Homo sapiens: one gene and its partners. The protein of the gene in region 2 purifies or fractionates together with the protein of the main gene of each other region. This does not show direct contact. Each region holds a gene or a part of one and is shown on either strand. Other genes may lie near its edges. The genes, in order: MASTL, IMMP2L, NUP37, SMS, DICER1, KCMF1 and RABGAP1.

Evidence for each region.
Region 1: the proteins of IMMP2L (region 2) and MASTL purify together in Homo sapiens (affinity purification with mass spectrometry; one large-scale study listed by BioGRID and IntAct). This does not show direct contact.
Region 3: the proteins of IMMP2L (region 2) and NUP37 purify together in Homo sapiens (affinity purification with mass spectrometry; one large-scale study listed by BioGRID and IntAct). This does not show direct contact.
Region 4: the proteins of IMMP2L (region 2) and SMS purify together in Homo sapiens (co-immunoprecipitation; one large-scale study listed by IntAct). This does not show direct contact.
Region 5: the proteins of IMMP2L (region 2) and DICER1 purify together in Homo sapiens (affinity purification with mass spectrometry; one large-scale study listed by BioGRID and IntAct). This does not show direct contact.
Region 6: the proteins of IMMP2L (region 2) and KCMF1 purify together in Homo sapiens (affinity purification with mass spectrometry; one large-scale study listed by BioGRID and IntAct). This does not show direct contact.
Region 7: the proteins of IMMP2L (region 2) and RABGAP1 purify together in Homo sapiens (affinity purification with mass spectrometry; one large-scale study listed by BioGRID and IntAct). This does not show direct contact.

The regions. Positions count from the first base shown.
Region 1 is NC_000010.11:27,172,352-27,175,851, reverse strand, and holds part of MASTL (serine/threonine-protein kinase greatwall), read right to left. Parts: intron 2,735-3,500; coding exon 2,593-2,734; intron 1-2,592. UniProt on the Homo sapiens protein: Serine/threonine kinase that plays a key role in M phase by acting as a regulator of mitosis entry and maintenance.
Region 2 is NC_000007.14:111,482,493-111,485,992, forward strand, and holds part of IMMP2L (mitochondrial inner membrane protease subunit 2), read right to left. Parts: intron 1,237-3,500; coding exon of another isoform or gene 1,155-1,236; exon of another isoform or gene 1-1,154. UniProt on the Homo sapiens protein: Catalyzes the removal of transit peptides required for the targeting of proteins from the mitochondrial matrix, across the inner membrane, into the inter-membrane space. Known to process the nuclear encoded protein DIABLO.
Region 3 is NC_000012.12:102,075,115-102,078,614, reverse strand, and holds part of NUP37 (nucleoporin Nup37), read left to right. Parts: intron 1-1,111; coding exon 1,112-1,293; intron 1,294-1,767; coding exon 1,768-1,818; intron 1,819-3,500. UniProt on the Homo sapiens protein: Component of the Nup107-160 subcomplex of the nuclear pore complex (NPC). The Nup107-160 subcomplex is required for the assembly of a functional NPC.
Region 4 is NC_000023.11:21,939,226-21,943,508, reverse strand, and holds the start of SMS (spermine synthase), read right to left. Parts: upstream 2,801-4,283; 5' UTR 2,685-2,800; coding exon 2,636-2,684; intron 2,513-2,635; exon of another isoform or gene 2,142-2,512; intron 1-2,141. UniProt on the Homo sapiens protein: Catalyzes the production of spermine from spermidine and decarboxylated S-adenosylmethionine (dcSAM).
Region 5 is NC_000014.9:95,151,030-95,154,529, forward strand, and holds part of DICER1 (endoribonuclease Dicer), read right to left. Parts: intron 1-3,500. UniProt on the Homo sapiens protein: Double-stranded RNA (dsRNA) endoribonuclease playing a central role in short dsRNA-mediated post-transcriptional gene silencing.
Region 6 is NC_000002.12:85,026,661-85,030,160, reverse strand, and holds part of KCMF1 (E3 ubiquitin-protein ligase KCMF1), read right to left. Parts: intron 2,273-3,500; coding exon 2,105-2,272; intron 1-2,104. UniProt on the Homo sapiens protein: E3 ubiquitin-protein ligase which accepts ubiquitin from an E2 ubiquitin-conjugating enzyme and then transfers it to targeted substrates, promoting their degradation by the proteasome.
Region 7 is NC_000009.12:123,098,020-123,101,519, reverse strand, and holds part of RABGAP1 (rab GTPase-activating protein 1), read right to left. Parts: intron 2,806-3,500; coding exon 2,722-2,805; intron 2,043-2,721; coding exon 1,971-2,042; intron 1-1,970. UniProt on the Homo sapiens protein: May act as a GTPase-activating protein of RAB6A. May play a role in microtubule nucleation by centrosome. May participate in a RAB6A-mediated pathway involved in the metaphase-anaphase transition.

The DNA of each region.
Region 1 (3,500 bases), on a different chromosome or scaffold from region 2:
GTGCTGGGATTACAGCCATGTGCCACAGCACCAGGCCCCACAAGTCCAGTTTTGAGACCCAACATTTGAAAGATCAGTAGAATACTGAATAGCCAGATTGGCTGTCTGTCTGCTGCCTAGAGAAAGTCAGGATTAGAGACAGAGATTTGGGAATCATCAACATGGAGGTGACAAACTGACATCATGGGAGTGATGAGATGAACATGGAGCACGTGTAGGGCAAAAAGGGTAAAGGCAGAATCTCCAAGAACTATATTTAGAAGAGGTAAGGAAGGAACTGAAGAGCAGCAACAGAGGTCAGGGGAATGAGAAGAGACAATTGGATTTGACAATAAGGAAATCACTGGTGCCCATTAAGAAGTTTCAGTTAGGCCGGGCGCCATGGCTCACACCTGTAATCCCAGCACTTCAGAAGGCCAAGGCAGGCAGATCACCTGAGGTCGGGAGTTCGAGACCAGCCTGACCAACATGGAGAAACCCTATCTCTACTAAAAATACAAAATTAGCCGGGCATGGTGGCGCATGCCTGTAATCCCAGCTACTCGGGAGGCTGAGGCAGGAGAATATCTTGAACCCGGGAGACGGAGGTTGCAGTGAGCTGAGATCGTGCCACTGCACTCCAGCCTGGGCAACAAGAGCAAAACTCCATCTCTAAATAAATAAATAAATAAATAATAAATAAAAGAATTTTCAGTTAAATAGTGAGATGATAAGTTGCCAGAGCAAAATAATCAAACAAAGAGGAAACCTTTGAGAAGTTAGGCAATGTTGGGGAGACAAGGGTGGAAACTTATTTTCAGGCTGAGGATAAAAGCCGGCAAGGAAATACAAACAGAAGAAAGGGTGTGAGAGGTGGGGTGGGGAGGATGAAACAGATGATCATGAAAAGAGCTCAAAGAAAAGGGAAGTAACTAACATCAACATGTAGAAGAGGTTGATGTTATGGGTTGAACTGTGTCCCTCCCAAAAAAGCTATGTTTAAGTCCTAACCCGTACCTAAAAATGTGACCTTATTTGGAAATGGGTTTTTGCAACTATGATTAATTAGGTTAAGATTAGGTTAAGATGAGGTCATACTGGAGTAAGATGGGCTCCTAATGACTGGTGTCCTTCTCAGAAGCCAGCTCTATGATGATAGAGACACAGGGAGAACACCATCACAGAAAGAGGGAGAACTGGAATGAGGCATCTTCAAGTCAAGGAACACTGAGGATTGCCAGCAAGCCACCAGAAGCCAGGAAGAGGCAAAGAAGGATTTCCCTACAGGTTTCAGGGGTAGTATAGCCCTGTGGACACCTGATTTTGGAACTCTAGCTTCCAGAACTGTGAAACAATGAATTTTTATTGGTTTGAGACACCCAGTTTGTGCTACAGCATCCCTAGGAAGATGAATACAGTTCATTTCAGAATGCAGGAAGGGAACAGTTTTCAGAGAGAAAGGGAAGAAAAGAAGATAGGTGAAAATGTCATCTTTTTATTTTTATTTTTATTTTTTTTTAGACAGAGTCTTGCTCTGTTGCCCAGGCTCGAGTGTAGTGGCACGATCTTGGCTCACTGCAACCTCGGCCTCCCAGGTTCAAGCAATTCTCATGCCCCAGCCTCCCGAATAGCTGGAATTACAGGCATGCACCACCATGCCCAGCTAATTTTTGTGTTTTTAGTAGAGGTGAGGTTTCACCATGTTGGCCAGCTTGGTCTCGAACTCCTGGCCTCAAGTGATCCACCTGCCTTGGCCTCCCGAAGTGCTAGGATTACAGGCGTGAGCCACCGTAACCAGCCCTATCTTTCTATACTTATGTTCTGTTTTGAAGGATGATGGTTCATTTCTGGCTTGACTCTTCTGGTAAGGATATAACTGAGAATAAGTTCTAAACAGGAATAGGCTTCTGAAGACTGAACAGAAATTTAGACCCAACATTGTGGTCCTGAGCCCAAACTCCATCCAACCTGAAGAAACATTAAGAGGTAAGATAGGCCGGGTACGGTGGCTCACGCCTGTAATCCCAGCACTTTGGGAGGCCAAGGTGGGAGGATCACCTGAGGTCAGGAGTTAAAGACCAGTCTGGCTAACATGGTGAAACTGTCTCTACTAAAAATACAAAAATTAGGCGGGCATGATGGTGGATGCCTGTAATCCCAGCTACTCAGGAGGCTGAGGCCAGAGAATCACTTGAACCTGGGAGGCAGAGATTGCAGTGAGCCGAGATTGCACCATTGCACTCCAGCCTGGGTGACAAAAGAGAAACTCTGTCTCAAAAAATAAAAATAAAAATAAATAAAAAAATAAAAAAAGAGATAAGATAATATCAAGGGTGGCAGGTGGGGCTTCTCTGGAACATTGAGACTGAACCAGAAGGCAAAGGACAAATGACTACATGTACTCCAGCATCTGGTCTTTTACATTCAGAGAGTGGGACAGCCATGGCTACTGCTAGTTTATTTTCCTATGACAAATGCCATATATATACTAGATGAGTTCATTTTCTTTTACTTTAGGTAACGTAAGTACTGAAGAAATTTTTTAAAATTTAACCTTGAAAGATAATGTAGTGATAGATAACACTTCAAAAACTCAAGACATGCATGCCTTACCATGGGCCCTGCCTAGTAACAGCTCAGGTGCAAGGTAGTCTGGGGTTCCTAGAATTCGCCCATCATCAACGGGGGCCACCCCTCTTCTCACACTCTTCGGAGTTCGGTATGGAGTTCCCGACTTGATCTGATTTGGGGTCTGCTAATTCAAAAAGGGTTTAAGAGATAACAAATATCTTAATTCCTTTTACACCGAATAGAAAATGGTGAAACACACAAGCCAAATAACTAGCTCATAGGCTACTAGGCGTAAAGGATGTAGTCAAATTTTTGATAAGTTTTGAAAATGAATGCATAATTAGTTATAATTATGAAAAAGTCCTTTTATCTGGTGAAGTTCAAAAGCTTAGACAACACTGATTATTCCAATAAGATCTAGATAAGAAACAATAAAAAAAATCTGCAAGAAAAATGTTCAGTGAAAAAATCTGCAAGAAGACTGATAGCATGGACTAATACAAGCTTAAGAAGAGCCACTGAGGAAGGCTATGGCTAACAAATGATTAAGACAACACGTAAGACAGAACTACATATAACCTATTGTACTAAATAGCATTTAAAAATTTTTAGGATAATTTGTTATTTCACAACAAGTTTTTTTTTTTGAGATGGAGTTTCGCTCTTGTTGCCCAGGCTGGAGTGCAGTGGTGCGATCTCGGCTCACCACAACCTCCGCCTCCCAGGTTCAAGGAATTTTCCTGCCTCAGCCTCCCAAGTAGCTGGGATTACAGGCATACACCACCATGCCTGGCTAATTTTGTATTTTTAGTAGAGACGGGGTTTCTCCATGTTGGTCAGGCTGGTCTCGATCTCCCGACCTCAGGTGATCCTCCCACCTTGGCCTCCCAAAGATGGTGTGAGCCACCACGCCTGGCATTCACAACAACTTTGTAAGACCAGCAAGACAG
Region 2 (3,500 bases):
TCTCTATAAACTGTGGCCATTTCTCCCACTCACACAGCTCTCCTTCTTTGCTTCCTAGCAGCTATAAATTTGACTCGGTAGACTTATTTCTAGAATCCCTGAACCCTTGTAGTCATGACCCAAGTATGTGGTTCCAAGAAACTAAAAAAAAACCCATGCCTGAAAGAGAAATCCTACCATCTCTTTCTTCTCTGCCCCTGTGGTATCCACCTCCCCAGCTGGCCCTACTGCCTAGTCAGACAGAGTTTCTCCTTTATTCAGGGGTTCTCACTGCTGCAGCTTCCTCAGCCTCAGCAACTGCCATTAACGTTAGTGCTTCTCTATTGAAAGAGAGTCTGGCATCAAACATTAAAGAGGCTGAGCAGCATTCTGCAAAATAACTGGACAGTACCCTTCAAAAGTGTCAATGGCATAAAAGACAAAGATCAAGGAACTGGCATATACTGAAGGTGACTAAAGAGACATAAAAAATAAAAAATGAAAATATGGGATCTTGAGTAGGATCTTGGCCCAAAAAAAGGACATTAGTGGGAAAACAGGTGAAATCTGAATAAGGTCTAGACCTATTCGTCTAATAAGATTAGATCTAATAATATTCTACTGATGTCAATTTCCTGGTTTCAATACTTGAACTATGGTTCTATATAATGTTAATATTAGGGGATTTGTGGGAACTCTCTACACTATTTTTGCAACTTTTCTTCAAAACAAATAAAAGTAAAATTAAGTTAAAACACTTTTAAATGTGATTATTTAGGACTTTATTATGAAAGAACCTCTGTCCCGATGGACTTGTTAAGTGATATATTATTGTGAAATAGTGCAACTTATGTTAAGCCAGGAAGGCCATCACACAGGTTAACGAAAAGTCAATTCCAAGGTATAGAAAATTCACCTTACTCACCACTATGAGTTTGTAAATCACTAAGAGAGTATGATGCCACCTACATATACTATAGTGAGGACTTGATGACAGCAAATCATATTTTGTGCAACCAATAATGTTATTAAATAAATGTAGCTACTGAATAACATACTTAAACAATAACTCCACTGTGACCAACTTTTTACAGAAAGAAAGAGACAGTGAAAAATAAGAAAGATATGCAAAAAAATAATATGCACCCACCTCCCTCTGCCAGATCTCCCATGCTTTAGGAAACAACACTGGTCAACCAACTCTGAACAAAACCCCTTGCAATAGAAAGGACAGTCTGCTTTGCTATATATGTGTTTCTGTAACATGAATTAACATAGACAATTGGTAAGTGGAGAAAAGATTTCAGTGTAATGCAGAAGTTACATTGGTTCCTATGTAATTTTTTTCCCAGATGATTAATGTTTTGCCTTATTAGTACAGGCAACTGAAGGCTACGTATACTAATGGCAGCAAACCAGGAAGGAATCAGTATTATACATTCAGCCTTTCTCTGAGAAGTGCTACTGCAAAGTTAACCCTGATCTTTGTTTATAAATAACTAAATAAATAAAACAAAGTAACACAAAACAATGAGGAGAGCATACAACTCTGGTATCAGTACATTTTGTACAAAGCTTACAAGCTTTTCTCTATTTATGACTTGTAATGATAATGTCTTTCTGCCCTTGCATCCACAGACAGCCTCAACCCTTCCTTATACCACCTACCACCAAGCTATCTTCACCTTTTATGTTTTAAGTAAAACACTACTTTTACTGCAGTTTAATTATTAGAAACTTCATGTCTTTTAAACTGTGTTAGTATTTTTATTGACATTGTTATTGTTTTCATCAGTGCTCTGGTTATAAAGTTGAATAAGCCCTACTGATTTAAGTAAGAATTTGGAAACTGCAAATTTTCCAGAAAAGCACACATAATATTATAGTAGAAATGGTGTATTACCACACATTCTGAATACATTGTCTCAAGATTTTTTTAATATAAAAAGGTTATACTGGTTTGTTTTCAAAGATTACTTATTTATCAATGAAGTATACTGTTAATATCAATTTCTAAACAAAATTACGAAGTGTATTTTATCATCAGCTTTAAATCGAACATTTTAATATACACTTCTGTATGTGTCACACATTTCTTAAATAAATAGGATGTTCCAATGTAGTAACAAAAATTATCATCTATGTTAAAAACAAACTGATGCATTGTATAAGAAAAGCAAATATTCAATATTTGATATAAATTAAATGTATATTATGAACTGCAATCAAACCAACATCAATCTTCTAAAATGAAGCAGTTTCTAAATTGTATGAAAATACATGGATATGGTCTAGAAAGCATGTTTCATCATAAGACTAAAAAGATACTTTTTATTAGGCAGGGTCTCACTGTCACCCAGGCTGGAGTGCAGTGGCACAATCACAGATTACTGCAGTCTCGACCTCCCAGGCTCAATCGATCTTCCTACCTCAGCCTCCCAGGTAGCTAAGAACTACAGGCACGCATCACCAAACCCGGCTAATTTTTGTATTTTTTGTAGAGACAGGGTTTCACCGTGTTGCCCAGGCTGGTCTCAAACTCCTGGGCTTAAGGGATCCACACACCTTGCCCTCCCAAAGTGCCAGGATTACAGGCCTGAGCCACCTGGCCCTGACCTAAAAAAATACTTTAAATAATGCTAAAGAAGAATTTAGCATCAGATTTTTTGTTTCTTTCTCAAAGCAACAATATTGCTTCACGATCATCTGTTGTTAAATATATAATACTAGTAACTAAGCACTCTTTTATGTAAATGGCTCCTCCTAAGAACAAGCACATGAAAGTTTGTGTTATTTGTACATGACAAAGATATAGCACATAACTGAGTCATTAAAAACACAGTTCAGGCCGGGCGCAGTGGCTCACGCCTGTAATCCCAGCACTTTGGGAGGCCGAGGTGGATAGATTATGAGGTCAGGAGATCAAGACCATCGTGGCTAACACGGTGAAACCCGTCTCTACTAAAAATACAAAAAATTAGCTGGGCGTGGTGGTGGGCCCCTGTAGTCCCAACTACTCAGGAGGCTGAAGCAGGAGAATGGCCTGAACCCAGGAGGCGGGGCTTGCAGTGAGCCGAGATCCCGCCACTGCACTCCAGCCTGCGCAACAGAGCGAGACTCTGTTTCAAAAAAAAAAAAAAAAAAAAAAAAAAAACACAGTTCAACTGGAATAGCTATAATTTATATATCAATCCCAATTTGAATAGAATATTTTTGAAGTTAATGTATATAATAAATATCAATCACTATGAATATTTATATAAAATAGTAGTGTGCTCTTTTTAATATACTCCATGATATGGTAGGATACTTTTATGGACCCATGCAACCCTGAATATCAAGCAGCCCTGTTTTATTTTTCAATTATCTATTTAAGTCCACTTGGTTAGAGATAGTCAGCATGTTTCTCACGGGAAAAAAAAAATACTGCACAATTGTCTGCGTATAGTGTGACCTCTTTCACTTGGGTGGGTATCCTTTCCATCACCAACTAAGTGAGGATATAACCTTGTCAAACCAAA
Region 3 (3,500 bases), on a different chromosome or scaffold from region 2:
GCAGTCACTCAGCTTATAAGTGAAGGAAGCGGCGTGTCTGTGCTCTTTAACTATGCTGCCCTGCCTTCCATTCTAGAAACAAACTTCAGTTGCATAAGTATGTGTAACACATAAATGTCTGTCTCTCTTGAGAGATACATACTTAGCTATTCTTTCTAGACAATATAACTAACATAACTTAAAAGTAACTTTTCCCAGAAGGAATTGTTAAATTGATCTCTTCTTCTTAGTGACGGCACATCATCACTTAAAATTCTACCAAATCTCAAAATCTTTTTTTTTTTTTTAAAGAAGGAATTTCGCTCTTGTTGCCCCGGCTAGAGTGCCGTGGCACAATCTTGGCTCACTGCAACCTCTGCCTCTCGGATTCAAGCAGTTCTGCCTCAGCCTCCCGAGTAGCTAGGATTACGCGCATGCCACCACAACCGGCTAATTTTTTTTTTTTTTTTAGTAGAGACGGGGTTTCACCATGTTGGCCAGGCTGATCTCGAACTCCTGACCTCAAGTGATCTGCCCGCCTCAGCCTCCCAAAGTGCTGGGATTACAAGCGTGAGCCACCACACCCGGCCAAATCTTGAATTGTTTATCTTGCCAGTTTTCTCTAAGGTTTTTTATATTCTCTAGAGATTTTTACATAGCCTCTTCCTTTACATTTGATCTTCCATTTGTAATATAGGTTGAGGATCCTTATCTGACATTCTTGGAACTAGAAGGGTTTCAGATTTTGGAATTTTTTGCATTTTGTAATATTTGCATATACATGAGATACCTTGGGAATGGGACCCAAGTCTAAACATGAAATTCATTTATGTTTCATGTATACCTTATACACATGACCTGATGATAATTTTATATAACTTTTTTTAATAATTTTGTGCATGAAACAAAGTTTGTGTTAAGTGCTTATATGTGGAATTTTTCACTTGTGGTATCATGTTAGCACTCAAAAAGTTTTAGTTTTTGGAGCATTGCAGATTTTCAGATGAGGAATGCTGAACCTGTATATTGCAAATGTTTACATTTTACCGTACAACAGTGAATCTCTGCTTACACTTCAGGTATAGTTAGTGAGATAAGTGATTGAGTTTCTTTTTATTTTTCTGTCTTACAGCTAATGGTTGCAGAGAAGAATGGAACAATCCGGTTTTATGATCTTTTGGCCCAACAGGCTATTTTATCTCTTGAATCAGAACAAGTGCCATTAATGTCAGCACACTGGTGCTTAAAAAACACCTTCAAAGTTGGAGCCGTTGCAGGAAATGATTGGTTAATTTGGGATATTACTCGGTCCAGGTACTTTCTTGATATGTTTGTCTATTACACACCAAAAAAAGGCAGTAACTGTTGCTAAATGATCCACTCATCCATCCTGTTATACCTGAGACTATGCTGTCAAGCGAAAGCAAGTCTTTCCTATAGAAGGCCAGAGCTATGGATTTTTATATAACATAAACTTGCTATGCAGATTTACTCTGGGAGTAACCCAGAAAGGACAGTGCAAAAGAGGAAATCTTGGATCTGTGCAATGTTGACTTATATTGGAAAATAAGAAAAACACTGACCCTGTTGCATGATGGTTCCCTGCAGTGGTTCTAAGTCATGTCTTTATTGTATTTCATCTGTTTTAACTGATTGCTTGTTTAGGATTTATTATAGTTTAAACACATTGGACATTCTGTCCTATAAAGAGAAAATACTGTTTAAACCTTAAGTTCACCCACTTGAGTTTAACACATAATTCATAAAATGCAAAATATTATCTTTTAGTTATCCTCAAAATAAGAGACCTGTTCACATGGATCGAGCCTGCTTATTCAGGTAATGTACCGTTTTTGTTGGAGCTGTGATTTGATCTTTTGACGTTGCTGTGCCACCACTGGGATACTTTTGTAGTTCTCTTCTTTGCACTGGATTTTTTTTTTCCCTTATTGTTTTATAAGTGGTTATTTTACTTTCCCGACTAAGTCATTGCCTTTGTCTTTTGGTCTAGACAAGGAGTTGATTTGTTTTCCAAATATTTTCTTTACACAGAAAAACATGTAACCACTCCACCACTACCACCCCTACAATTTGGAATATATTATGCTTCCTGATTGTTCTGTGCTGTTAAGGATGTAAATGTAGGGGAGCCCATGTTCATGTATATAAACTTTATTATTATGTGTTAAATGAAACTATGCTAGATAGTATATCTCTGCGACATGTTTTTGCTTTTCACTTAAATTAACATACATGTCTACCTTGTTCTTTTTCATAATACTCCATTGTATAGTGTGGTCCTTAAGCCATTATTTCTGCTTTTTAAGTAACAGCAAAACCAAATAAGAGACTAAAACCAGTGAAATTTTATTATATGCTATATTCCAATAAGTTGTAGAACTTAGGGATACCATTATTAAGAATAAAATACATTCGACTAAATGTAAGAATGCCATGGATCGTTAAGATACATCCTGACTTCAGAGATGTGTGAACAAATATACACCAATGAGCAAGTATCCATCAATTTTAAAATCAATGAGCTATGGTACTTATAAGTCTAGAGGAGGTAGTCTCAGGGCTTGTTGAGCAGCTCATCAATGTCATCAAGAGCTCAGACCCTTTTCATCCTTTCCCTCTGCTATTCTCAGTGTCAAGGATTGGGACTTGTTGCTTCATAGTTACAAGATGGCTGTGAGAGTTCCAGGCATAAGAGAAGTACTCCATTTGCCGAACAATTAAACAAAAAAAAAAAAGTAAGAGGAGAAGAAGGAACCCTCTCCTTTTATGGGAGATTGCTATGACTGCCTTAAACTAATTATGTCTCATCCCCTAGGGTAGGACACACTGTGCCCTGAACAAAGTTAGGCTTCACTTAGCATGGAAAAGGGGCAGAATGGCTGTCATATTTGATGCCTTATTTGTTTCTTCTACCACACTATTACCCCTTTGGTTGTGAAAAAAAGGATTGTATCAACCTTGTGTAACTTTGGAACTTAATGAAATGACACAAAATAAGCACTTCATAAAACTTAAAGTATGAGAAAATATTTATGGAATATTTTCCTGGAATTCCCGGTCTAATTGTAAAGACATATTAACAAATTTAGGATTATTAAAATCACTGGTTTTATACAAAAAGAAACCTGTTTCTGTCTAGGTGCTATGGCTCATACCTATAATCCCAGCACTTCAGGAGACCAAGGCAGGAGGATCACTTGAGGCCAGGAGTTTGAGACCTGCCTGGGCAAGATAGCAAGACCCCATTCCTACAAAAAACAAAAAATTAAAACTTACCTGGGCATCGTAGTACACACCTGTAGTCCCAGCTACTAGGGAGGCTGAGGTGGGAAGATCACTTGAGCCCAGGAATTTGAGGCTACAGTGAGTTTTGTTAGCACTTCTGCACTCCAGCCTGGGTGACAGAGCAAGACCCTGTCTCTTAAAAAAAAAGAAAAAGAAAAAGAAAAAGCCCGCTTCAGAAAAGCTTGTCATTATCCATAGGATACGATACTTAATTT
Region 4 (4,283 bases), on a different chromosome or scaffold from region 2:
TTCTGATCTATACACGTCTTTATCGTCAATCTTTTTACTTCCTCTTTGCACAACTAAATTAAGATGCCACTTCCACACCTTTCCAACTTCAAAAACGTCAGTTTCTCCTCCTCCCTCCCACACGATACATCCATGGTTCTCCTGGACAGTGTCAGCCCCAAGTGTTAAAATTCTCTCACTTTTTCTTCATTCGCTCTTTTCCCACTTTAACAAAACAACAAAAACATCCTATTGTGAACCAGCACTTCAAGAGACTAAATCTAAATTTGGCCAAGGAGGTTTAAGGACAAAGGGAAGTGCCAGAGTCTTTGGGCTCCATGCTGAGATCACCCTCCTTAAAGCATAAAAGAAAACCCATGGACACACCGGCACGGTGGCTCATGCCTGTAATCCCAGCCCTTTGGGAGGCTGAGGCAGGCGGATCGCTTGAGGCCAGGAGTTTGAGACCAGCCTGGCCAACGTGGTGAAACCCTGTCTCTACTTTAAACAACAACAAAAAAAATTAGCTGGGCGTGGTGGCTCGAGTCTGTAATCCCGGCTACTTGGTAGGCTGAGACACAAGAATTGTTTGAACCCAGGAGATGGAAGTTGCAGTGAGCCGAGATCGCACCACTGCACTCCAACCTGGGCGACAGAGTGAGACTCCATCTCAGAATTAAAAAAAAAAAAAAAAAAAAAAGTTAAGAAAATCCATGGACGATAAATACAGGTGAGTGTTCACAAGGTGCTCACAACAGGGACACTTCCCAGACTCACCCCTTACTAGCTGGGTGACCCTAATACACTATTTCTCCTCACCGCTAAATTCAGTATGCTAGAGCTTTCATTAACCATTCAGCCCTAAGGCTGGCAGGGTTATTAATGAAACCTTGGCTCTTCAGCTCCACCACTCAAGCACCATTTCATCTCTAGCAGTCTCCATGCCCTACCATCCTCACCTAAGAAATGTGGGAACTAAAATTAACATGCTTTGTTTTCTCTAAGTCACTTCAGACCACCTAAATACACTGACATTGCTTAAAAACCCTACAGTGTGCTCCACAGCTACCCCCTTAAGAGTAAAAGCCCGAAGAGGTGTACACTTTTTTTTTTCTTTTTAATGGACAGGGAAGGCTCAGAAAGGTTAACATAAACCCAAGGCCACACGCAGAGCCCATCAGGAAGAAGCCAGACTCAAACCCAGGTGTTGCTCCAAATCCTCAGTCTTCACTAGATCTTGTGCCTTCGGAGATCCTTTAAATTTGCGGGAGAAAATGCAAAGTGAGTACTCAGAAATTCAGAAAGAAAGGAACAGTGTTAAAAATGGTAAGAGAAAAGCCTGCTCTATCCAATTCGAGGAAAACAGTGGGAAAAGCAAGGTATGAGCGAGACACTCCAAGTGGAACCTATGGGAAGTGCAGATTCAAGTCTGCGGCAGTCACAGGTTTAAAAGCCACCAGAAAAAGAAAGGGCAGTTCTATCCTTCCCGCGACTCCCACCCCCCACGACAGAGGCACCCCGAGAAAAGAAGCCTGCAAATTATCCTTCCCCTTCAAATTTCCTGCACACAGTTCCGACTTTAGCAGGCCTCTCTCTTCTGGTCGGGTTTTTTTTTTTTTTTTTTTTTTTTTTTTTTTTTTTTTTTGAGACAGGGTCTTGCTCTGTCGCCCAGGCTGGAGTGCAATGGCGCGATCTTGGCTCACTGCAACCTCCGCCTCCCAGGTTCAAGCGATTGTCCTGCCTCAGCCTCCCGAGTAGCTGGGATTACAGGCGCGTGCCACCACGCCCGGCTAATTTTTGTATTTTTAGAAGAGACGGGGTTTCACCATGTTGGCTAGGCTGGTCTCGAACTCCTGACCTCGTGATCCGCCCGCCTCGGCCTCCCAAAGTGCTAGGATTACAGGCGTGAGCCACCGCGCCCGGCCGGCTGTCTTTTGATAGCTCCCCGATTCGGGGTGTAAACGATTCCCGCGCCCAGACCTCATGCCTCCCCACCCCCAATAATAATAATCGTTTCCTTTTCCCGTCCCCCAGTTCCTTTCCGGGGGATCCGTCTCCTACGCAGTCGGCTGAGAATTCTGCAAGCGCTGCGCGTCCGCAGACCTTTCCCCAGCCCCAGCTCCCTACGAGGGGAAACCCCCGCCCCCAAGAGGGAAATTTACCCGCCTGCAAGAACAGGAAAAGGTCGCGCGGGCAGCCCCGCTCGGCGCACGCCCCCAGCCCGGGCTCGCCGCGCGGGTCACGCCTCGCTCCGCCGCAGTCCCTGCAACCCTCGTCCCATGGGGGGTCCGCCCGCGCCCGGCAGCCCGGGGACTCCCCGAGCGGGAGCGCGAAGGCGGCGAGCCCGCGTGGGAGCGCGGGTGGACGGCCAGGGCCCGGAAGGGCGGCGCGGCCGGCGGGCACCCGGGACTGCCCCTGCAGGCCCCGAGCTGCGGCCGGGACGGAGCGCGGAGCCAGCAGGAGCGCGGCCTCCGCCCGACCGCCGGTGCACGCGGCCCCGCAGCGCGCTGTGCGTGGCAGTCCGGGAGAGTGCGGCGCCGCGCGGGCCGCCCGCATTGTTCGGCCCGCGGCGCACGCCACGCCCGACCCCCGCCCCAGCCCGCCAGGCGGCGGGAGCGGCGGGGATGGCCACGCAGGTGGCGGCGGGCGCCCTCACCTTTGGCGCCGAGCATGAAGTCGAGCGTGCTGTGCCGTGCTGCTGCCATAGTGAGGCGAGGCCCTGTGCCATGCCTGGGGGAGCAGCCGCGGGAGACTGGGGGGCCGCGCGGCGTGTCAGGCTGCGGCCGGCTGGGAGTGTGCTGCGCCCGGGGAGGCCAGGACTAGGAGGTGGGAGGGGCCGCCGGGAGCGACCCGGGGCGCGGGGGCGGGGCCGGTCCCGCTCCGGGAGGGAGGAAGCCGGGACGCCTCCAGCCCCGAACTTGGAGCGCCGGGTGTGAGGCCTCGCTAATGGTGGAAACGTGGGCGCCGTGCTCCCCGGCGTGCGTCACCAATGGCCGCGCCCTGCTCCAAGGCTCGCGCGGCCGCTCCCGCCATCCGTTAGGTCACCTTAGGTTTAAACAGCGCAGCAGGATTTCCGGGGGGCCCACCCCTTACGCCTCCCCACACACCTCTCCCCAAGCCAAGGCCCCTCTTATTTCCTGGCGGAGTCGGGAAAATCAAATGATGAGATCCACCCCTGTAGTCTAAGAGTACTGCCTGCCTTTTCTTACAATGCTGCAGTTAAACCCATTCGGATTATTACCATTATTAGCAAGGGTCTGCTTTGCATTTGAGGACTGAATAGAAAGCGCTTGGGCATTTACGTTATCCACAGTTTCACGCAAAATAAAATGAGGGAGAAGCCAGTAAGAGGACAGCATTGTTGTTAATATTGAATTAGGAAACTGCAGACTCCGGAGTTGCTTGTCTAGCAGGACTCCTCCATCACTGGCGCCTCTATTAATGGCAATAGCCTTTGCGGGGGGCTTATTTTTGACACTGGGGTTATGGCTGCTGTTCAACAAAATGATGGCAAAGGGGAGACAGCATGAGCGTCTGAACTAAAATTATTCTTTACTGCACTGACAATATCCCTGGGCAAATGCCTCCATCATCGTGTCAGGCTTTTGTGCCTCTCACGGCCACAGGAATTGCTGTAATGGTTAGACAAAATTTAAATCCATGAACTCATGTACCTCCACAAAAGCAACGAAGAACCTGGATATTAAACTCACCTCTTCCCCCAGGCAACGGCTGTTTTGCTGAGTTCTTCACCTTTCTACAAAAACTGGGCAGTGTCTTCACAAGTGTTCAACAAGGGTCTGTTGAACAGACCTTTCTCTGTTAAGAACTGAATCTTTTTCTAGTACCTGCATTAATTTTTGTCTACCCATGGCCACCTGTTTGTTATTCTGCATGTCTTACCATTCTTCTCTGTGTCCTAGATTCTCAATTTTGTTAGCTATTGCAATTCTCATCCTTCAGTTAGCTATGTCAGTCTGCAGCTCCTCTTTCTTCCTGGGATGTTCTTCACTTCTTGCCATTCCCCTGGAGTCAGGTCACTGACAATAGAGTTGTCTTTGTCCTGCATGTTGCAGGAGCAGTAGGGCTCCATGGGCCTCAGGTGTGCCTTTCCCCACTCAGCACCAGTGTGGGCCTCACATCAAAAGGGCCCTGCACTTGGTTTAATTCTCTGCTGTTGCCATCTTGAAATTCTTAACTCTCGAACAAGGGGCCCCGTGTTTTTATTTTGCCCTTGGCCTGCAAACTGCGTAGCTGGTTATGCTCTGCAGCTTGTGTCTGGCAGCACAGGTGGCCCTCGGGCT
Region 5 (3,500 bases), on a different chromosome or scaffold from region 2:
AAACCTGAATCTAATCATAAGGAAACATAAAACCTAACTTGAGGTTTATTTTACAAAACACTTGGCTTTATACACTGAATTGAAGTATGATTTCAAGGATGATGTGTTAATTCATGCATAGCAGATGAAGAATGTGTTATTTAGGGAAAGTTAAGAGACGTTTAAGGCACTGTTACATTTGGTATCACTACTACAGAGACCAACTAAGATAGCTGAACCAGTATAGATAATCCTCCTCGAAAACTTGTCTGTAAAATATTGTTCTCAAGCCCTCTTTTCCTTCATCCTCCATTATATTACTAGACCATACATTTCAATATTGATAATTTGGGGGCTCACAATATAATCTAATCACATTAAGACTATTGCATGTTAAAATTTTCTCTAATACACGTATTTAAAAGAAAAATATTACATTAATTTTATCAAATGCTAGTTATGTACCATGAGAGTTTAAGAAACTCCTTTTTTTTCTCAAAACCTCAAGAGGCAAACACCACTACGACAGTTTATAGACAAGGAAGCTGAGACTCAAGAGACGTTGCCATATGCCCAGTGCTCATCGGCTATAAAGTCGAAGAATCAGGATTTGAACCCTGGTCTCTCTGACGCCAAACACTTGCTCTTAAGCATCCCTACAAAGCTATGATAAAACATTAATATTTAACTCTGCAAAGTGGAAAGAACTTAAAATACCATGAATCAGAGCAACTGACAGTGATGGCTGGGCAGCAGGATGCATAAGAGGCGGACAGGCTGTGAGTTCATCATGTTAATCTCACCTCCCAGGATGTTACCAAAAGAGGAAAGACAGAAATCCTGCAATCTCGAAACATCTCAGAGGACTAAATACGACTAAATACGACTACTACCTTTCTTTTTCCCTTCAAACAGGGTCATTTAACTTCTTAATCAAAGAACCTTCCTACATCATGTCAAAGATCAGTTTTTAAACTAAGAGTCTTCTCTCATTATTCAAGTTCTCTAAGTACAACCGGTTTGTTTTCTTAAAATTCTGAACTGGTTAACAGACCTCATTTTCTAATCCTCAAGAATTGTTCAAATGTGTTGTTAAAACCCCTGCTTTATGGCATACATTGAGCTGTCAAAGAACGAACAAGCACAACAGAGTTAGTCTGTGCCAACAAGGAGAAAGTCTGCAATACAGTTAAACTCCAATTTTGACGGCGATTTTCTCCCACGATTCTTAACACTTCCCTCAGTCTGCAATGTTTCTGTGCACATAATCATACGTACCTCACAAAGCAAAAAGGACCAAGTAGCATGATTTGTCCAAAAGCAGAATAGTAATAATCTTTTTAAAAGCCTTAATATGCAAGCAATATTCTTCCCCACAAAACTGTGTTAGCTTCTAAATACTTCAAAAAGTATTATAAATTAACTTACTCACTCAACAAATCGGAGTGTCTCCTATATGTCAAGCACCATGTCTGGTAATGAACATGCATGAAGAATCTAATCCTTACTATTCCATAAACCTTAACACAACCAAGAACATGTAATGCTGTTATAAGCCTAAAAAACAAAAAGAAAAAACTCTAAGGCCAAACTTAAGCCTGTCATGTCTTACTTCTAGTAACAGTCTTACTGACATCCTCAGAGAATGTTTTGTAGCATCTTCTTAGTCACTTATTTAAAATGCATATTGAGGTAACTGCATGTTAAAGGAGTACCAACAATTCATTGACAATTTTAGATGAGGAAGCCATTTTGCACTCAGAATTATTTTAACAAAGGCTTTATTACATAACTGAAAATGTCAATTTCACCAGCTACATCTCAAAAATAATCTTTTTCTTTCTGTATTAATTCATCAAGTATACACCACGATACAACCAGTCTTACTTTTTAGACCAACACACGTTCCTAAAGACTGGGTGAGAGGGCTGGGCACGGTGGCTCACACCTGTAATCCCAGCACTTTGGGAGGCCGAGACGGGAGGATCACGAGGTCAGGAGATCAAGACCATCCTGGCTAAACACGGTGAAACCTCATCTCTACTAAAAATACAAAAAATTAGCAGGGTGTGGTGGCGGGCACCTGTAGTCCCAGCTACTCGGGAGGCTGAGGCAGGAGAATGGCATGAGCCCAGGAGGCGGAGCTTGCCGTGAGCTGAGATCGCACCACTGCACTCCAGCCTGGGCAACGTAGTGAGACTCCGTCTCAAAAAAAAAAAAAAGACTGGGTGAGAATTCCTATTTGGAAAATCCTCACTGCCCATGTTGTCCACAGAGCTTATTCCTGAATGGATTGTTATTTAGCATCTGTCAACAGCCTGAATGAGACAACTGATATTCGAGGGACACCACCCAAAAGAAATTAATGAATCAAACCACTGGAACAGTGAACACCTGTATTACTAAAGCTTTTCTATTATGCCTGAGGCTTTTATCCAGTTTCTCTAAAATGGCATGTGAAAAAATGTTTCTCTATCGTTTGTAAAATGTAAAACATTTTCTCCATATATTGCTAATGTTATTTAATGTAATAATCCAAAAGATTGATTATTCTTCATACAAGAGAAAAATCTGCTTCAAATTGGTATGCTTCCTTTCATTAATCAACGTGAGTTACATGCAGCACTCACCTTTCCTTGCCCCAATCATTCATCTAATTCTCTGCCTCCACATTCTATACTACCAACCTTTACCATTTTCATAGTACTCTAATACTTTCCTATTATAAGACCATTTCAAATCCTTTCTCAAAATAGACATCATAAACTATTAAATAAATGTACTAATACTAGAGTCTTAGCAGAAATTTGGAAGAAGTGAAAACTAGCCATCAAAAAATCAAAAGGTCCAAGCCCCACAGGCTAAGGAGGTGGAATACCAAGAAAATAATGCTGCCTCAGAAGACTAGTCATTTGGCAAGTCGTAAATTGCAAAGAAACCTGTGAATAAGAGCGAGTATAATACATACACTGGGCTTTCAGGATGAACTAAGCTCTTGAATGTCCAAAAAGCACAGCAAAAGGTAAACAAAATAAGTCACTTGGCTCCAACTTTCTCTTTATACAAATTAAAGACCTCACCAATATCTTCCTCTGGCATTCAATAAAGCACATCACTCCATGTTTGATCAGTTTTTTGAATACCTGCCAGACACTATGATTGGAACCAAGATCGTAAAAAGGAGTCGACCCTGGGCTTCAGAGAGATTACAGATTTTACTGACAGAGGAGTTGTTTGTAGGAAATTATCACTGCTTGGAGGAACCCTGAGAAAACTCATACTGCAATAAATTCTGAGTCTAGTCTAGTGTTTTGAAGATCAAGAAACAATGTGACCACTTTGAGGTATATGTCTAAAAGAAGGGAAAGCATGGACTCCAATGAATTATTTGTATACCTACGTTCACAGCACCATTATTCACAGTAGCCAAAAGATAGAAGCTACCCAAGTGGCCATGGACAGATGAATGGATAAACAAAATGCAGTATATTCATACAATGAAATACCATTCAGCTTTTCCA
Region 6 (3,500 bases), on a different chromosome or scaffold from region 2:
AGGTATTTCTTCAAAGTAGATATACAAATGGCCCATAAGCACAAGAAAAGATGCTCAACATAATTTATATTTCAGAGAAATATAAATCAAAACCACCTGAGATACTACTTTACACCTACTAGGATGGCTGAAATAAAAAGGACAAAAAGTGTGGGCTAGGTAAGAAATTATAGCACGAAGCCAGGCGTGGTGGCTCATGTCTGTAATCTCAGCACTCTGGGAGGCCCGCAAGTGGATCACCTAAGATTAGGAGTTCAAGACCAGCCTGGCCAACATGGTGAAACCCTGTCTCTATTAAAAATACAAAAAAAATTTTCTGGGCATGGTGGCGGGCACCTGTAATCCCAGCTATTCAGGAGGCTGAGGCAGGAGAATCGCTTGAACCCAGGAGGTGGAGGTTGCAGTGAGCTGAGATGGCGCCATTGCACTCCAGCCTAGGCGACAAGAGTGAAACTCTTGTCTCAAAAAAAAAAAAAAAAAAAATTATAGCATGAAACATTTATATATTTTCTTACAATGTCTTCTAATCAACTGTAGAAACAATCTGCCTTTTTTTTTTTTTGAGATAGCGTCTTGCTTTGTTGGCCAGGCCGGAATGTAGTGGCACAATCAGGGTTCACTGCACACTTGACCTCCTGGGCTCAAGTGATCCTCCCATCTCAGCCTCCCAAGTAGCTAGGGCTACAGATGCATGTGCGCCACCACATCCAGCTAATTTATTGTATTTTTCGGGGGTGGATGCAGAGACAGGGTTTTTGCCATGTTGCCCAGGCTCATCTCAAACTCCTGGGCTCAAGTGATCTGACCATCTTAAGCCTCCCAAAGGGCTGGGATTACAGGCGTTAGCCACCATAACCAGCCAACAATCTGTTTTCTGGTCACTACAAAAGCTATTATTGCTGGGCATGGTGGCTCACGTCTGTAATCCCAGCACTTTGGGAGGCGAAGGCAGGTGGATAACTTGAGGTCAAGACCAGCCTGGCCAACATAGTGAAACTTCATCTCTACTAAAAATACAAAAAAATTAGCTGGGCAAGGTGGCACACACCTGTAGTCTCAGCTACTCAAGAGGCTGAGGCACGAGAATTGCTTGAAGCCAGGAGGCAGATGTTGCAGTGAGCCGAAATCCGGCCACTGCATTCCAGCGTGGGCGACAGAGTGAGACTCTGTCTTAAAAAAATAAAAAATAAAATAAAATAAAGCTATTATTTGTGTGTTAATAGCACGAACAAAAGACAGAGCATATTTCTTCTTTACTGAAGCACTCTTCTATTTCATTCCTTGTCAGTTGTGTATATTTCTGAATGGTTTTTTTAAACAAGTAAACTATGATTAAGATGAACAGACAGAATTACTTAGTACGTAAAAAGTAAGGCCGGGCGCGGTGGCTTACGCCTGTAATCCCAGCACTTTGGAGGCCGAGGCAGGTGTATCATTAGGTTAGGAGTTCAAGACCAGCCTGGTTAACATGGTGAAACCCTATCTCTACTAAAGATACAAAAAATCAGCCGGGCATGGTGGTGCACGCCTGTAATCCCAGCTCCTTGGGAGGCTGAGGCAGGAGAATCGCTTGAACCTGGGGGGTGGAGGTTGCAGCGAGCTGAGATCACGACATTGCACTCCAGCCTAGGCGACAGGGTAAGACTCCTCAAAAAAAAAAAAAAAAAAAAAAAAAAAGCCAGGCACAGTGGCTCACGCCTATAATCCCAGCACTTTGGGCGGCTGAGTCGGGCAGATTGACTGAGGTCAGGAGTTCGAGACCAGTCTGGCCAACGTGGTGAAACCCTGTCTCTACTAAAAATACAAAAAAATTAGCCAGGCGTGGTGGTGTGCACCTGTAATCCCAGCTACTCGGGTGGCTGAGGCAGGGGAATTGCTTGAACCAGGGAGGTGGAGGTTGCAGTGAGCCAAGATCGCGCCATTGCACTCCAGCCTGGGCAACAAGAGCGAAACTCCGTCTCAAAAAAAAGTAAGATTTATTTCATGTTTAATGAATTTGGGGCTTATGGTATGCTGCTGGGGAGTTTTAGAACACTTTGCCTTTACTTCTTCAACGTACATAAAATTCTAAATGATGTAATTCATTAAATTTTTAATTACTTACCAAAATCTACCCTTGTTAATATGCACTGCATTGGGTGGTCAGTTGTATGCCTTGTTGTTGTTGCACCACTTTCATAACAAGATGCACAAAGATCGTAATCGTAGCAAATTAAACACTTATATCTGCGACCTCGAAAATTTCCTTTTAAACATGCATCACAGCTGACACCTATAAAAAAAAGAAATATCTTTAGTTACCAGTTGTAAAGGCCACTCTTGATTTCATTTTTATGAATGTTTCAGGTGCTCATTTAACCTCATATGTCCTTTCCAAAATGACTAGAAATGACTTAGTAAAATGATACGGGAAGTTTTAGCCATGTGCTGGATTCATTACTCTGATTTATACTCCACATGAAAATAATTTAAAATGACTGATACAGGCTGGGTGCAGTGGCTCACGCCTGTAATCTGAGCACTTTGCGGGGGTCGAGGCGGGTGGATCACTTGAGGTCAGTAGTCCAAGACCAGCCTGGTCAACATGTTGAAACCCCGTCTCTACTAAAAATGCAAAAATTAGCTGGGCGTGGTGGCTGGCACCTGTAATCCCAACTACTTGGGAGGCTGAGGCATGAGAATTGCTTAAACCCAGGAGGTAGGGTTGCAGTGAGCTGAGATCGCGCCACTGCACTCCAGCCTCACAACAGAGTGAGGCTTTGTCTCAAAAAAAAAAAAAAAAAAAAAAAAAAAAGCCTTGATAAGCCAGCAAGAAGGTAAAAACCAAGACGAAGAGGAACTGGTGACTGGAAGCACTAAAGAAGGCTTTTCACCATGAGGGTATTTGCCCAAGCAGGTAAAAATCTAAGCTTAAGGTCCACAGCATTATTGGACAAAGGCCTAGTGAAGGTGGGATAATTAACAGAAGATTCCTCATAAAACCAAGACCCTAATATACTCTCAATGCATGGGTAGGCTAGAAATCCTCCCTAGGGGATTACAAAAATTACCCCAGTGAAAGCCCCCTGCCCTAGGGGCACAAAATAACACAAAAAGCCATAACCACAAACCAGTCCTCATGGGTTTATAGCCCAAATTCTATCAAATGGTTCCAAAGACCTTGGGTCAAGAATTTTAAGTGGTCTTAAATTAGAATTGATACCAAGCATCTGGCATATATAAACATCCAAAGAATAAGTTCATAATTTAAACCATAAAATACACACAAAAAAACAAAGCACCATCAGAAAGAACTAGCAGGAGCAGCAGAATCAGTCATGAGTTCATATCAGAATTGGGGCATCAAATAATTCTTGACCTGTTAAAAGAAATAACTGGGTGTGGTGGCTAACACCTATAATCCCAAGCACTTTGGCAAGGCGAGGCAGGGGGATGGCTTGAGGCCAGGAGTTCAAGACCAGCCTGGGCAACATAGAGAGATCCTGTCTACAAAAAAATTT
Region 7 (3,500 bases), on a different chromosome or scaffold from region 2:
CCTTTAGGATGGTGTGAGCATCTCCTTTGGGGGACACCAAGAGACGGCTTCTCTGTTGAGCACTACAGTTTCTGAAAACCTGTGCTCTTTGTAAACTGGCAGATAACCTACTGGAAAAGCCACTTGGTATTATACACCAAAAATAATAAAATTATCATTGTCTTGATTCAGTAATCTCACTTCTAGGAACCCAGGCTGAAAAATGAAGCTGTAACTAGATAAAAATTTATGTACAAAAATTTTCACTGTAGAACTGGAGACAGGCAAAAAAGCAGGGGATAAACTATTCAAAAACAATTAAATATTAAATATACTGTGCTATATTTATACAAGGAAGTACACAGCCTCTAAAAGGTTTTTGAGGAACTTTTATAACATTGGAAAATGGATGCATGCTGGTTGAAATAGAACACAAAAATGTACATAAACTATGATTACAAATAAAATGTATTCCACATTTCATCAAAATAAGATGCCATTAACTGTAAGAAATGTCATTTTATGTTCCTCTAAGAAAACATTCTGCCAATTAAACCACAAAAAGCCAATTATAAAACATCCGACTTTCAGAGATGTAAATGTGAAAAGAAATGCTTATCTCAGAATGAATGAAATTTTAGACGTTAAACACTGAACAAAGACTGAAAGAATACACACCACAGTATTAATAAAGATGTTATATGTGGAAAATGGATCATAAGGGCTTTTTTCCCTTATTTACTCTTCTTTTCCAAATTTTCTGCAAGAATATTAAAGTTTTAGAATCAGAAAATAAGTTCTGTTTAAAAACCAGATCTGGTTGGCCAGGCGCAGTGGCTCACAGCTGTAATCCCAGCACTTTGGGAGGCCAAGGCGGGTGGATCACGAGCTCAGGAGTTCGAGACCAGCCTGGCCAAGATGGTGAAACCCTACCTCTACTAAAAATCGAAAAATTAGCTGGCACGGTGGCACAAGCCTGTAATCCCAGCTAGCTGGGAGGCGAGGAAGGAGAATAGCTTGAACCTGGGAGGCGGAGGTTGCAGTGAGCCGAGATGGCGCCACTGCACTCTAGCCTGGATGACAGAGCAAGACTCTGTCTCAAACACACACACACACACACACACACACACACACACACACACACACACACACACACATCTGGTTAAACATTAATTATGACGAAGGCCAGTGTCATCCTGCTCTAGGTAATGTTGCTTTGCGCAAACATAGCCATGAGCACAGAACTTTCCCAAGTTCCTGTCCTCTGAGCTGTAAATATGTTAGTGAGGCACTTTTCAGTAAATTGCTTATCTTAGTAAAATCTGACAAGTTCTGTAATACAGGTAGAACTTAAAGAAAGAAAGCACCATGTTATAAAAACTCCTAAGCTGCCAACAAAACATTAAACAATTAAAGTTCTAAACTGGGCGCAATGGTGCCCACCTGGAGTCCAGCAGCTCAGGCTGAGGGAGGGATTTCGCTTGAGCCCAGGATTTCAAGGCCAGCCTGGGCAACATAGTGAGACCCTGTCTCTAAAAATAAAAAAAAATAAAAATAAACTAAGGTCCTCATTGTAATTGGATGTGTTACAGCAGAAGGCATGAACTCAGAACAACACTGGAAAGTGACAAGCCACAGCACATGATTCTGACCTCTGCACTCCCACCACCTCAAGCAAGACCTATCACTTGCATGACTCCTTCTCCTCAGCATCACACTGCGGACATCGACTGCCTTACAGACATTTGGAAATCATGGGGCACTTGCACTTTGAGATCTAAAGCTAGAGCTTGTTTGATTTCATCTGTACACCCTTCCAGAGAAAACAGGCGTAGTGTTAGTTGTCAACTACTGAGCCAGGACCTGTGACAGGTGCCTTATTGCTTAGATTCTCTCACTTTTGAAATCAACTGCCTCCTCCCAAAACCTGTTTATACAGCCATAAAATGAAGTAGGTGGTATAAAATCTTTTAGGTAAAGAGAAGTCTTACCCGAATTTTCTCAATTTCCACCTTATTGGCTGTCTGCTGCTTCTCCAATCTTTCACTCAACTGAGAACAAATCTAAAGAAACAAATATAAAACAACAATCTCTTGAGCAATTGTAATCATCTGCATAAATTCCATAGTGGAAGCTGGAATATGTAAATTGGAATTAACATAGTAGCAAATAGCCTGCTACCGCTCAGGAGGGGATATGAAGTCGATGGATAAGCAGGGGTTCTTCTAGCTATGCCGCCTCTGCATTCACTGGCCTAGGACTTGCAGAAACCAAGCAGCACCACACTCAATGGCCAATGGTTTCTGAACACCTGCCAGACTCATGAGCCAGCAAGAGATCCTAGTGTAGGAGGGAACAAGACCATTCTGTTATGTTCTTAAAACTCAACCAGTCAGGGAAATAACCGGTTTAAAACTACACGTAAACAAAAGTTCGTAATTCTGAATCTGAAATACATACCAAAACATACTGTGGTTTTAAGTACCTACTATGTGCTGGGCACTGCCAGGCACTCTACAAACATGGTCTTTTTAAATCCTCGTAACAACCTTCCTAGGCAGGGATGATTTTCCTTCTTTTACAACTGAGAATAAGTGAAGCCACTTGTCAGTGCAGGGGCAGAGCCAGGATCTGAAACCAGGGTGCTTGCATTTGGGTTTGGGGGTGGGGGGCGGGTATACATTTTATCCAGACTAGGGGCTCCCAGATTACACAGCCCAATCCCAGGGTACTGGAACCTACCTGCTTATAGTCACCAATGATAGAACTGTTTTTTTTAATCTCAGATTCTGCCTTGTCGAGTTCCCGACGGCACATTTCTTTTAACTGCACACATAAAAAAACAAAAGGGACTATGTTAACAGAAAAATAAAGGAAGTTCTGCCACCAACCGCTTAGTGCTAGGCTTCCCAAAAACTGCTGAACCAAACCCTGGAAGTCCTCTAATTCAGCTACTTTCTTCCTTCAATCTTGGCAGCACTAATCCCCTGTTCCTGATGCAGGAGAGGGAGAGAACAGTTAAAACTTCCAAAAACGTCAGACCCCATTTCAGATTGAGGCTTCTGCTGAAGGTCTTCCCTGCCAGTACAAGCCAACCTGTGGACCTTCACTGACAGACCAGACACAAACCAAAGAGCTCATAAGAGGACTGCGGGTTTTCAGCATCTCATGGTTTCTGTAGAAAGGGCTTTGCAGTCTCTCACCCCAGCCAGTCCTGCCTCCTGGACGACCGTGGTGTGACAGGGGAGGGGACTGCTCCCAGGCGCACAGCACCCAGAGCTCTTCCCATGCCTGCAGGTCTGTGTCTCCAATGACTATGGAGCACTGGCTCAGAACAAGACTTCCCAAGCTTGCTCTATGAGGGAGACAGCAGAGGACAAGTAGGGAAACAGCCAGGCATTATATGATGTGTGCTTTCCTTCTGCAGGAATTCTACCCCCTCTTCTTTGTTATGCTCAGATGCTGATACACAGAAATTCTCCTGCCCCAACAAAGGATGGGCTTCAACCCACTGTCTCCTC